Regions from separate parts of the Homo sapiens genome. Here region 1 is linked to region 2. The links come from fine-mapping of genetic effects on gene expression. A gene starts in region 2. The other region holds a variant in brackets. All regions are shown on one strand. Distances are between the middles of the regions. Region 1 overlaps IARS1 (isoleucyl-tRNA synthetase 1). Region 2 holds the start of NOL8 (nucleolar protein 8).

Region 1 (2,918 bases), 56 kb after region 2:
GGGAAGCCACCTTCTTACTTCATTTTTAGGAGAGTTGGGTTTTTTGTTTGTTTTTTTGTTGTTGTTTTGAGATAGGGTCTCACTCTGACGCCCAGGCTGGAATGCAGTGGTGCAATCACAGCTCACTGCACCCTCCACCTCCCCGGCTTAAGCAATCCTCCCACCTCAGCTTCTGGAGTAGCTGGAACTATGTAGGTGGTGCCATCACACCCGGCTGATTTTTGCATTTCTTATAGAAATGAGGTTTCGCCATGTTGTCCAGGCTGGTCTCAAACTACTGGGCTCAAATAATCCTCCCACCTTGTCCTCCCAAAGTGCTGAGATTACAGGCATGAGCCACAGCGCCTGGTCTAGGAGAGTTTTATGAATGGCTAAAAATGTTGCTTTCCTAAGGAACTGTGAGAGAAAAATAGACCTGTACAAATCTGTTTTGTATTGTGGCCACATTTTTTTTAGGATGAGAAGCATCTCTAAAATTTTGTAATAGAGTTTATTGAAAAATTTAATATGATTTTAACCTTTAATATAAGACCATGCTGTAAAAGTATGGGTGAAAATGAAATGTTCAGTTGCATCGTGTTTGGTTTCCACATTGCCTCTTCTGTGTTGAAGTTGAAGTTGACATTGTTTCTTAGATAATTGTCACTAGCAGAACTATTTTTTTCTACTCTTGTTCTTGTATTAGTTTTTGCCTTTCTTACTATTGTGGAAAGATATGACCAATTTTGAAGTCTTAGATGTTTTTATCTATAATAAAAATGAATATTAGCAGAAGGCCAAGTAAGTGATGATGCTGTCAATAAGACATGAAAAGTCAGTCTTACCGTAGTGCCTACTAGTCTCAGCCTGAGCAGCTATGTGTGTGTTTCTGCTTCCCCAGATCAGACACTCCTCTAATTTACAAAGCAGTGCCCAGCTGGTTTGTGCGAGTGGAGAACATGGTGGACCAGCTCCTAAGGAACAATGACCTGTGCTACTGGTGAGCAGTAAGATGTGTTTCTTCATAGTGTCTTTTGTCATGTGGTTAGTAAGTATGGTTTACACTTCCCCCAAGTTATAATTTTAATAACCCATCTTTTATTGGGTATTGTAATAGCTATCTTTTCTTCTGTGTGTTTAGGAGCACAAAATAATTCAAATAATGTTACAGAACAGAAGTAACATCCTTCTTGTGATAAAGTATGTAAGGGAGTATTTTTCTTTTTAAACTCATTGGAAATGATAAACCACCATTTATTCGATTTAGGGAATGAAATGACCTTGGAAAAATATGGCTGTACTGCCAGAGTTTGCTAGCCTTCAATAATAGTCATTTTCAGAGTAAACATTATTTTCAGATATACCTGCAAAAGCCATTTGTACTTACTCTTGTTGGTCCTGCAGTGGATGATGTACCCTGTGCTTGGCTGTATGGATAAGCTCCAAGCACAGAAGCCTTTGCTTTCCATAGCTGATATGTGTCCTGCAGGTGATAGCCCAAGAAGTATCATTTCAGCCTCTGGGTACAAAATGAAACAAGGCTTGAACCTGTGTATTTCAGATGAATGTTTTTCACTACAAGTTTGAAAAGTAATCACCACTCTTA[AC/C]TTCTCACAAGGACCCAACTAGACTCTAGAAAACTGTATCTGAGTTTAGGAGAATGGGGAGAATCTCAGGGCAGCAAAGGAAATAGTTATAAACTGTAGCTTTCTAATATTTCTTAGCAGAGTGGTCCTGATTTCTCAAAAGACAGCTTTTCATTTTTAGAGCTAGTAAGCTAATTAGTTCCCCTAATGTGTAAGATACTAGATATAGAATATTAGTAAGATAGCCTCGAGGGGGTGCAGGCATATAAACTGATCTTTGAAGTACAGGGCAGTAACTGCAGTGCCCAAGAGAAGAAGGGGAGGTCTGGTAGCCTACCCTGACTCAGCCTTGTGCTTGAAAAGGATTTCTGCAAAGCTGAACCTCAAGGAATAAAGAGTACTGGGAGTGGGAGGGATGCAAGAGGATGGATGCAGAAGGGAGGGAAGCTGCGTGTCAGAGGGCAGGCAGGCTGCGTGTCAGAGGGCAGGCATGGGCAAAGCCAGTTAAGTGAGAAGGATTCTAGGGAACTTGCCTCATTGCCAGAGCCTGAAATTCAAGACCAAGGATGACCAGAGAGGTGACTATAGAGAGGGCTGCTAGAGCAGCTACCAATCCCCTGGCCTGTTGGCCTTTGCTTAATGAGTTCAGAAAAACTGCTATGGTGAGGATAATGTGAAGACTAGAGTTGTATGGGATGAGGCTGGCTAAAGCTAAGGTGACTGGTTAGAGGTATGTGGCAGCTGTACTCCAGTTGAAGAGGAGGACATGGGAGGCCTGTGTGCTGTGGGGTAATCTATTGGATGTAGGTCATTGATGGCAGCACAAACTGTTGTGTGTGCTATGCTGTCCATTTAGAAGACATTCTCTTTGCAGTGAGCGCCACGTTTCCAGAGTGTTTGGTCCACAAAGCGTTATACAAAGGCTCCTGTGGGTATTATTTACATGTTGAATTTTTCCATATTTTTATGTGATTGGTTATGTGATCTGTTTATTGCAGGGTCCCAGAGTTGGTACGAGAAAAACGATTTGGAAATTGGCTGAAAGATGCACGTGACTGGACAATTTCCAGAAACAGATACTGGGGCACCCCCATCCCACTGTGGGTCAGCGATGACTTTGAGGAGGTGAGGCATGGCAGTATTTCCTTGTGTTGATTTTTGCTAAAGCATTTTGTTCATGAAATCTGAATGTGGTTTAAAAGAATAGGGTGTTTTTTTCTTTGCCCCTTTCTTATTTCATCTTTTTTCCTCTTTATTCCTTTCTAGAATCATGACATAAGATAATCTGTTTCTGGGGTTTTTAACTTTTTTTCCTTGAATTAAATACAATTTATAAAACTTTCCTCTGTAAAA
Region 2 (2,908 bases):
ATACTGGAGGCGGAATTATCTAGCTAGGGATATAGTCAAGACTTCCTCCTTGTCAGTCATCCACACAGACGACTGCGATTAAACGAGTTAATACCCTGCAATGCGTTTACAGCTGGGCGCCGTACGCGCTGCTCCCAACTCTAGGCCATCGTCATGACAGGATCAATGCCAGTTCATGCCCACTTTCTAGGGCTGGGAGTAGGAGACCGAGGATGTCTGTGGAGATTCACCCGCCTGGCCCGGGAACCCTGGCCAGCGGGCCCTGGGGGACTTGGGGTGGTCACGTACTGGACTCGGGACTTCTCTTCCCAGGGCGCCGGTGGGTCCTCACACGCTCGCCGCAGGGCCGCGATCTCAGCTTGCAAGGCGCGCACCTCTGCCAGCTCTGCGTCCATGGCGCGTTGCTGACCGCAGCCGGGCCGGCAGCGCAGCTGTCACTCCGACCTGCGCGCTTCACCCGCGCTTCAAGCCTCGCGCGCGCTCCCGGCGCGGACCATCCCAGAGCTCACGCGGAGGGGAGGCGGGAGAGCTCCGCGTGACCCCAGCGGCCCTGCACGTCCAACTCCGCTCTCGCACGAGAGCCTGAGTCCTCCACTTCCCCGCACACGTTTCCCTGGCTGTCTAAGCAGTGGCTATACTTTCTCTGGAGAGCGCGTTCTTTGCTACTCCAAGCCCAAGCGCTCCGCTGCTCACCCTAGCCGGCAGCCTTGGAGCCGCCCGGCCGCGTGCCTCACTAAAGAGGCAGGGCTGGGATCACGTGGAGGGGAGCGCCTCTTTATTTTTTTCACCTACTTCCTCTCTTACGCCGACCTAGTCCAGGAATTGGTACACACAGCGATAGTGTTCAATAGAAACTAGGGGATTTTGGTTTAGGCTCTTTTGCAGTCGTTGAGGGGGAGGTGACGGAGGCGTCAGGGAAGGTGGGAGGACGGAAAAGGAAATTAAAAGCTCTTGGGAACTGAATTGTGGTAACGGAACCTTAGGAGGCTGGGTTGGAAATCGAGTAGGAAGGAAGAGAGGATGCTCCGTTGGGACACGTGACCAGAAGTTAGGGGCTGCAGCGGCGCTGGCTTTAGGTGAACGACGTGGTGAGGAGTGGGTTTCGGGCATGAGAAGTCACAGGGCCGTTTCCTAGTCTCTCTTCACTTCTTTGGGTCTTCTCAGAGAAAGAAGGCTGCCGTGGGTAGGCTGGGGGCGGAGACTATCGGGAAGAGGTAGGCCGAAGTTCTGCCCAGAATACACGCCATGTGGTGGACGCTGGTTGGGAGTCTCTTCTGGAAAGAGTCTGTCAGCTCTTGGGGAAGGGAAGGGCGAGAGCTGAGCGCCTGCCGGGTGCTAAACGAAATGAGAGATACTATGATGGGCCCTAGTACCTCTGGAAAAGTTTTCCTGAGTCCCCTGTGATACAGCAACCTTCATAGTATAGTGTTAAGAATTCCAAGTTCTGAAGGTAGACCTGCATTATAATCCTGGATTCACTAATTTTCGGTATGGCATTGAGGAAGTGACTTAACCTCTTCTGCTCTCCTGAAAAATGGGAAACATGCAAACTACTTTGTACAATGCAGGCACATAGCAAAAACACAAGTCTGTATTCGCTATATCCCTTGATCTTTGTGTCTGAACCCCACTTTGCAGCACTTTTATTGTGACATAATATTGTGCCATTTGTTTTATTCTTTTGTGACTATAAGGAGCTCCTAGCCTCTCTATTCACTTCTTTGGGTCTTCTAGGAGGAAGAAGGCTGGGGTGGGTAGGTTGGGGGTGGAGACAATTAGGAAGAGGTAGGCTAGCTCTTTTTATCTTTTAGTGCGTTACATCCTGTTTCTGTCAGACTTTGTTAAAGACAGTAAATGAATGTATGAGTGAGTCAAGGAAAAACATCTAAAAACATGAATACATAAAATTAAGAGGGATAGAGTGTAATATTATGGCCATTTGGAGGAAAAAAACTCTGTCTGTACCTGTGTCTATATGGGTATGGGGTTGCTGTTCCAAAGTGCATTCATGAAAGATGTGGATGTAGGGCTTGGGCAAAACCTCGAAGACTAAAATTTGGAAGTAATACAATAGGAAGTGAAATACAGATCCAGGAGACGGATTTGATACAGAAGGTTCAGAGGAAGTAGTTGTTTTGTTAGATTTTAGAAGAACTAAGGGAAAGAACTCTTCTCTGTATACAGAAAATTACTTTTCCCACTGAAACACACCCAAGTATATGCCCAGCCTTCATGAAAGTGAACAGAGAAACGAAGCGCCTTTATGTGGGTGGCCTTAGCCAGGACATTTCTGAGGCAGACCTACAAAATCAGTTCAGCAGATTTGGAGAAGTTTCGGATGTGGAGATCATCACACGGAAAGATGACCAAGGTAATTTATGGTCCTTCACTGGGCAGTTATAGGCAGACATAACTCAGGTTAAGTGCTAGAAAATAAAACAACCCCAAGATAAATGTTAGCTCTGAACACCAAAAGTTTTAAGTGATGTTGTGGAGGTATAATGTGTGATGTGGAACTTGACCAGAATTTGTTTCTGAAATAAGAAAAAATTCCAAATTCTAAAACATCTGATTTCAGAAACATATTAACTTCCAGTTTTGAGAACTAGAATTTTCTAACATGGATTAAGTGTCCCGTTAAGTAGACTATCACTAGCATACAATCAAAATGTTTCCTTATCTGACTACTGGACATTTTCTTCTTTTTTTTTTTGGAATATTTTGATAATTATGCTTATTTTTATAGCCAATAAAAAACAAGGTTTATCTTTGAAATAATAAGTTTTCAAGAGCTATTTTTTTTTTTAATTTAGAAACAACCGTTTTTACATTGCTCTCTGGATAAGAATTTAAATAAATTGTTTTGTTTGTTTGTTTGTTTGTTTTTTAGGAAACCCACAGAAAGTTT

The links. PIP is the estimated chance that this variant, and not a neighbour inherited with it, causes the effect.
Region 1: its variant is the best candidate, but not a certain one, in a credible set for the expression of NOL8 in blood mononuclear cells (TOPMed, PIP 0.89).

Annotation. Positions count from the first base shown.
Region 1 is chr9:92,267,946-92,270,863 of GRCh38, reverse strand. It overlaps IARS1 (isoleucyl-tRNA synthetase 1), which reads left to right. Exons shown (of 34, transcript NM_002161.6): 13 at 881-979; 14 at 2,564-2,690. Among named protein-coding and RNA genes, the nearest start is that of MIR3651, 23 kb to the left of the region's middle. The variant AC/C (reference allele first, on the strand shown) is at 1,586.
Region 2 is chr9:92,323,486-92,326,393 of GRCh38, reverse strand. It overlaps NOL8 (nucleolar protein 8), which reads left to right and starts at 1,044. Exons shown (of 17, transcript NM_017948.6): 1 at 1,044-1,088; 2 at 2,185-2,371; 3 at 2,891-2,908. The coding sequence starts at 2,233. It overlaps CENPP (centromere protein P), which reads right to left and starts at 441. Exons shown (of 8, transcript NM_001012267.3): 1 at 289-441. The coding sequence starts at 395. RefSeq lists enhancers at 836-945, 976-1,095, 874-1,762.